2 linked regions of the Homo sapiens genome follow. The protein of the gene in region 2 interacts with the protein of the main gene of each other region in a pairwise test. Each region holds a gene or a part of one and is shown on either strand. Other genes may lie near its edges. The genes, in order: ZNF821 and LURAP1.

Region 1 (3,824 bases), on a different chromosome or scaffold from region 2:
GCTGGGACTACAGGTGCATGCCACCACGCCCGGCTAAATATTTGTATTTTTTGTAGAGACGGGGTTTCACCATGTTGCCCAGGCTGGTCTTGAACTCCTGAGCTCAAGTGACCTACCCACCTCAGCCTCCCAAAGTGCTGGGATTATAGGCATGAGCCACTGCAGCTGGCTAAAACCCTACATTGGAGAGGACAGATTAGTCAAGTAATTGACAAGATAACTAAAATTTCTTAAAAACATGCTATATAGGCTGGGCGCAGTGGCTCACCACTGTAATCCCAACACTTTGGGAGGCCAAGGCAGGAGGATTGCATGAGCCCAAGAGTTCGAGACCAGCCTGAGCAACATGGCAAAACCCCGTTTTTTCAAAAAAATACAAAAAAACTAGGCCTGGGGGCATACATCTATAGTCCCAGCTACTCAGAAGGCTGAGGTGGGAGGATGGCTGGAGCCTGGGAAGTTGAGGCTGCAGTGAGCCAAGATTATGCCACTGCACTCCAGTCTGGGTGCCAGAGTGAGACCCCGTCTCAAACAAACAAACAAAAACCAAAAAACTATATCCCAGGCACTATGCACTTTATCTGAATCTTACTGGGTTACTTCAAGAGTAGAAGACAAAATAGTATAAACAGAGGAATTAAGAGGGTTTTGACATTTTATACATTAATGAGATTACAATAGCAAACCTCCATATAAAATTCTTTCTTCTATTTAAGTCCCGGAAAAGTGTAAAACGGAACGAGTTGGATGCTTCTAGGAGTATATTCTGGAATGGGGGTGTGCAAAGGCTACTTAATACACAGATGAGTGGTTTAGGGAAGATTTAGAAATTGCTGCTAAAACAGCAAAATGCAGTGGGCTTGCACGTGAGGATTGTCAAGGAAGATAAAATGAAGTATCTTTAGCCGAGCTCGGTGGCTCATGCCTGTAATCCCAACACTTTGGGAGGCCAGTGCAGGATAACTTGAGGCCAGGAGTTTGAGTGCAGCATGGGCAACAAGGCAAAACTCCATCTGTACCAAAAATACAAAAATTAGCTGGGCGAGGTGGCACACACCTGTAGCGCCAGCTACTTGGGAGACAGAGGTGGGAGGATCGCTTGAACCCAAAAGGTCGAGGCTGCAGTGAGCTGAGAGAGCTGAGATCATGCCACTGCACTCCAGCCTGAGCGTCGGAGTGAGATCCTGTCTCCAAAAACAAAAAAAGAAAAAGAGAAAGAAAAAAATGAAGTATTTTAGCATAGGCCATCCATCACAGGGGTTTAGGATTGTTTCTCCTCTCTGGTTGATAAAAGACACAAGTGGCCGGGCACAGGTGGTGCACGCCTGTAATCCCAGCACTTTGGGAGGCCGAGGCAGGAGGTGGATCATGAGGTCAGGAGTTTGAGACCAGCCTGGCCAAGATGTTGAAACCCCATCTCTACTAAAAATACAAAAATTAGCCGGGTGCAGTGGCGGGTGCCTGTAATCCCAGCTACTCGGGAGGCTGAGGCAGGAGAATCACTTGAACTCGGGAGGCAGAGGTTGCAGTGAGCCGAGATAGTGCCACTGCACTCTAGCCTGGGCAACAGAGCAAGACCCCGTCTCAAAAAAATAAATAAATAAAAAGACACAAGTGTGACCCCAAGAAGGCATCTGGAAAGGTACTCTTAGTAGAAATGATAGGTTCACAAACAAGGCAAGTATAGGAGTTGGGTGTTCACCTACAAAAGCCATCTGTCCAAGAGCCTGCTTAGATTTGAGGAAAGTAGCTGGTGGGGTGATGGTGTGATTGTAGTAAGGCCAGGGGAGCCACTTCAGGCTTGTGTGGCCAATGTCTATGCCCACGTAGCATATATCCATAAGCTGCATCTCCCTGCACCATAGTCAAAGCCAAGATGAGCTATTAATGGAGTTGAAAAATAGATGGAGGCTAGGCGTGATAGCTCACGCTTGTAATCCCAGCACTTTGGGAGGCCAAGGTGGGCGGATCACCTGAGGTCAGGAGTTTGAGACCACCCTGGACAACATGGTGAAACCCTGTCTCTACTAAAAATATAAAAATTAGCGCCAGGCGTGGTGGCTCACGCCTGTAATCCCAGCACTTCGGGAGGGCGAGGCCGGCGGATCACGAGGTCAGGAGATCGAGACCATCCTGGCTAACACGGTGTAACCCCGTCTCTACTAAAAATACAAAACAAACAAAAAATTAGCCGGGCGTGGTGGTGGGTGCCTGTAATCCCAGCTACTCGGGAGACTGAGGCAGGAGAATGGTGTGAACCTGGGAGGTGGAGCTTGCAGTGAGCCGAGATCGCACCACTGCGCTCCAGCCTGGGTGACAGAGCAAGACTCCGTCTCAAAAAAAAAAAAAAAGAAAAAAATTAGCTGGGCATGGTGGCGCACGCCTATAATCCCAGCTACTCAGGAGACTAACACGGGAGAATCACTTGAGCCTGGGAAGCAGAGGTTGCAGTGAGCCAAGATCACACCACTGCACTCCAGCCTGGGCGACGGAGTGAGACTCCATCTCAAAAAAAAGGAAAAAAAGAAAAACAGATGGAAAAACAGGCCATGGAGGTGAGGAGAATATCACACATCCACAGTTGCATAAATGAAGTTACAGAGTCAAGCGAAAGAACATTGTTTTGAGGTGGAGTAGGTGGGACTTTGCAGGCTCTGTGGAGGTGGCCATTACAAGGGCCTTTACTGCGGGGCTGTGAGCACAGATGTTCAGCTACAACTAAAGAGCAGACCCCCAGGGAGGGGCTGTTTTCAGTCATGCATTTGGTCAGGGAGCCATGAAGGCTTCTCAGGTGATACACTAAGCTTGACTAAAAAAGAAAAACTGAGATTTGCTAGTTTCAGAGGACCTTCTATTTATTTGTTATTTGGGAACTGAAGCTGACCCTACCCTTTTCAAAAGATCATCTTTTCATTGCGTATGGCAATAGTGGCAAGTAGAAATAGGTAATTTCATTTTCTGACCATGTGAGTCTCCTATCACCTTGCAGTGAAATAGAACCAACTAAATATATTTAATTTAATGCTGCTTGTCTATTAAAAGTAAATGAAATGGGGCCTAGCGTGGTGGCTCATACCTGTCATCTCAGCACTTTTGGAGGCCGAGGCAGGCAGATCACTTGAGGTCAGGAATTCAAGACCAGCCTGGCCAACATGGCAAAACCCTGTCTCCACTAAAATCCAAAAAAATAGCTGGGCATGGTGACACACGCCTGTAATCCTAGCTACTTGGGGGGCTGAGGCAGGAGGATTGCTTGAACCCAGGAGGCAAAGGTTGCAGTGAGCCGAGATCACGCCACTGGACTCCAGCCTGGACGACAGAATGAGACTTGGTCTCAAAAAAATAAATACACAAAATAAAGTAAATGAAATGGACTCAAGGTCTGGGGGGCAGGAAAGTCTGCATTAAGCTTTGCTTAAATATAAAAGTTAATTGACACTTGAGCAGAGTAACGGCTGAGCTTCATTAGATCTGCCTTCTGGGAAGACGAAGATTGTGTGGCATGAAACTAATAGGCCACCTAAAGGGATATATTAAGAATTCCCAGGTCGGGCTCAGTGGCTCATGCCTGTAATCCCAGCACTTTGGGAGGCCGAGGCGGGTGGATCACCTGAGGTCAGGAGTTCAAGACCAGCCTGGCCAACATGGTGAAACCCTGCCTCTACTAAAAAAAATACAAAAATTAGCTGGGCATGGTGGCGGGTGCCTGTAATCCCAGCTACTCGGGAGGCTAAGGCAGGAAAATCGCTCTGACCTGGGAGATGGAGGTTGCAGTGAGCCAAGGTCGCGCCATTGCACTCCAGCCTGGGCAACAAGAGCAAAAC
Region 2 (3,824 bases):
GGTAAATGCACAAACTAGATGACATTTTAAAAAATTTATATACTTTTTAAAATATGGAAAACAAAATGTCCCAGCACAATTACTGAATATCAATCCCTACTTGATCTGCTATGCCAATATCAAGTGCCATATATCATATTTGTGTATATGCTGTGTTATAATCTTATGAAATCACTATGGTATATGCTGTTCATCGAAACATCGTATGTTTTGGTCGTATGATGACTGAAACATCATATAAATATTTGTGTATGTGTACACACTTATATACACATAAATGTTTATATATATGTGCATATATACACACATGATAAATGTTTATTTGACATATGTAGTCTATCATTGATCAAAATGTTTATATGGTAATCCCAGCACTTTGGGAAGCTGAGGAGGACAGATCACTAGAGGTCAGGAGATCGAGACCATCCTGGCTAACACGGTGAAACCCCGTCTCTACTAAAAATTACAAAAAAAATTTTTGCCAGGTGTGGTGGTGGACACCTGTAGTCCCAGCTACTCAGGAGGCTGAGGCAAGAGAATGGTGTGAACTCGGGAGGTGGAGCTTGCAGTGAGCTGGGATCATGCCACTGCACTCCAGCCTGGGCGACAGAGCGAGACTCTGTCTCAAAAAAATAAAATAAAATAAAATAAAATAAAAAATTAGCCAAGCATGGTGGCTCTTGCCTGTAATCCCAGCTACTCGGGAGGCTCAGGCAGGAGAATCACTTGAACCCGGGAGGCAGAGGTTACAGTGAGCTGAGATGGTGCCACTGTACTATAGCTTGGGTGACAGAGCGAGACTCTGATTCAAAAAAAAAAATTTGGCCGGGTGCAGTGGCTCACGCCTGTAATCCCAGCACTTTGGGAGGCCAAGGCGGGCGGATCACGAGGTCAGGAGATCAAGACCATCCTGGCTAACACGGTGAAACCCCGTCTCTGTTAAAAATACAAAAAAATTCGCTGGGCGTGGCAGTGTACGCCTGTAGTCCCAGCTGCTGGGGAGGCTGAGGCAGGAGAATGGCATGAACCCGGGAGGCGGAGCTTGCAGTGAGCTGAGATCGCGCCACTGCACTCCAGCCTGGATGACATAGCAAGACTCCGTCTCAAAAAAAAAAAAAAAAATTTACATGGTTGTTTATGTTATACATGGTCTGACATTGACCAAAACGTCATTATGTGTGTATGTGTATTTACATATACAGGTCAGATCCCGCAGGTCACACAAACACAGTAAATGTTTTTTGTATTTGAAAAATGTTTATTGAATTATTCAGGAAATAACTGCTTTATTCACATCTATGATAAACCAGAGTAAGACCATGCATTAATATTTGTACATTGAGGCCAGGTGTGGTAGCTCACTCCTGTAATCCCGGCACTTTGGGAGGTCGAGGTGGGAAGATCACCTGAGATCAGGAATTTGAGACCAGCCTGGCCAACATGGTGAAACCCCGTCTCTAATAAAAATACAAAAATTGGCCAGGCGTTGTGGCGCACGCCTGTAAGCCCAGCTACTCAGGAGGCTGAGGCAGGAGAATCACTTGAACCGAGGCAGAGGTTGTAGTGAGCCGAGATCACACCACTGCACTCCAGCTTGGGCAACAGAGCAAGACTCCGTCTCAAAAAAATATATATATATATTTGTACATTGAGAAAATTAGACACTGGAATTAAATGGACCTAGATTTGAGTTCCAGTTTTGCCATTAATGAGCCATATGAAATTAAAATTGATTTCTTTAAACCTTCATTTCTTTATTATAATATGAGGTACTATCTAAAGGTTTGTCATGAGACATCGAAGGAACATATTAACATGCATAGCATACCATCTGACAAGTATAATACTGTAAATCAATAAATGGTAGGCTATTTGGCTCTACATATTACTATGGTCGACTTATTTACTAGTTGTGATATTACTGTGTGTGTGTGTGTGTGTGTGTGTGTGTGTGTGTGTGTGTGCAGGTTTTCATCCAGTTTTTGGCTCATAAGCCCCATAGCCATTGTTACAGTGTTTGTTATAATGCTGGGGCACTCAGAAATAGGCTTCAGGAAACAGTCTCTTTCTGACCTTCTCCTGCTCTCCTCTCACCTTCCCAGAGTAGAACTCTAATCTGATTGTGGGTCATAAGACCCTCATTCCAGAGAAGGTCCTGACTCATACCCTGGAGGAAGGAATGCCGCAGAGAGAGGCCAATAAGAATCTAAACAGACAGGCTTTGCTGGGTTTTGATCAGACCCTTTTTGTCCAATAACATTTTGATATGGTTGTCCATGTTTCAATCGTGGACAACCAATAAAGTCTCTTTAAAAGGCCCAAAGGACCAGGCACAGTGGCTTAAGCCTGTAATCCCAACACTCTAGGGGACTGAGGTGGGAGGATCGCTTGATCCCAGGAGTTCAAGACCAGCCTGGGCAACACAGGGAAACCCTGTCTCTACCAAAAAAAAAAAAAAAAAATTAGGTGAGTGTGGTATTGCACACCTGTAGTGCCAGCTACTTAGGAGGCTGAACTGGGAGGATTGATTGAGCCAGAGAAGTACAGGCTGCAGTGAGCTGTGATTGAGCCACTGTACTCCAACCTGGGCAACAGAACCAGACCTTGTCTCAAAAAATAAAAAAAGGTCCCCACAACAGGATTCAGAGAGCGTCCAAGTAGCTGAACAGATGGAGGGTGGTGCACCCAGGGAGAGCACAGAAGTTCCGCACCCCTTCCCGTATGCCTTGCCCCATGCATCTCTTCATCTATATCCTTTGTAATATCCTTATAATAAACCAGTAAATGTGTTTCCCTGAGTTCTGTGAGCCACACCAGCAAACCAATCAAACCCAAGGAGGGGGTCATAGGAACCCCAATTTGAAGCTGGTTGGTCAGAAGGTCAGGAGGCCCAGATTTACGACTAGTGTCTGAAGAGGGGGACAGTCTTGGGGACTGAGCCCTCAACCTGTGGGATGTGACACTGTCTCCAGGTAGACAGAGTTGAAATTAAATTAGTAGACACCCAGCTGGTATCTGCTGCAGAACTGATTGCTTGCTTGCTGGTGGGAAGAAATCCTCATATATTTTGGGGTCTTCTGTATTAATGATTATTGTTGTGTTGCATTAAGTGAAAAAATTAAAAAAACACACACACACAGTTTAGGGTTTTCTAAACACTATGGCAAAAGCATAGAAAAAAATTTTATACCTGAAATTATTTGTGTTTTTGGAAGAATATCACAACTCTAATTCAATTGAACAAATGACTATTGGGTACATGGATTTGCTAATAATTACAAAGATAATGGAGAAATTGTTCCTGCTTAATAGAAGCTTGCAGTCTCAATAAGGGGAGATGAACATAAATAACTGCAATATCAGACTGTACAGACTATTAACTTGATAAAGGAGATTATCTTCAATTATTTCATCCTGGAGACAAATATATGAACAGTGAAGACAACTGTCCTAGTCCATGACCAAACTAAATACATTAAACAAAGCTCCTCATACTAAAAACACTTGTCCTGCTGTTTTCCCCTCCCTCCTTTCCTTCCTTTCTGCCTCCCTCCATCCCTCCCTTCCTTCCTCTTTCCAAAATTTACATCTACAGCCGTGCATGGTGGCTCATGCTTGTAATCCCAGCACTTTGGGAGGCTGAGGCAAGTGGATTACCCGAGGTCAGGAGTTCAAGACCAGCCTGGCCAACATGGCAAAACCCCGTCTCTACTAAAAATACAAAAATTAGCTGTGTGGTGGCGGGTGCATGTAATCCCAGCTACTCGGGAGGCTGAGGCTGCAGTGAGCTGAGATTGGGCCACTGCACTCTAGCCTGGGCAACA

The links.
Region 1: the proteins of LURAP1 (region 2) and ZNF821 interact in a two-hybrid assay, tested with the Homo sapiens proteins (one large-scale study listed by BioGRID and IntAct).

The regions. Positions count from the first base shown.
Region 1 is NC_000016.10:71,873,984-71,877,807, reverse strand, and holds part of ZNF821 (zinc finger protein 821), read left to right. Parts: intron 1-3,824. UniProt on the Homo sapiens protein: May be involved in transcriptional regulation.
Region 2 is NC_000001.11:46,209,580-46,213,403, reverse strand, and holds part of LURAP1 (leucine rich adaptor protein 1), read right to left. Parts: intron 1-3,824. UniProt on the Homo sapiens protein: Acts as an activator of the canonical NF-kappa-B pathway and drive the production of pro-inflammatory cytokines. Promotes the antigen (Ag)-presenting and priming function of dendritic cells via the canonical NF-kappa-B pathway.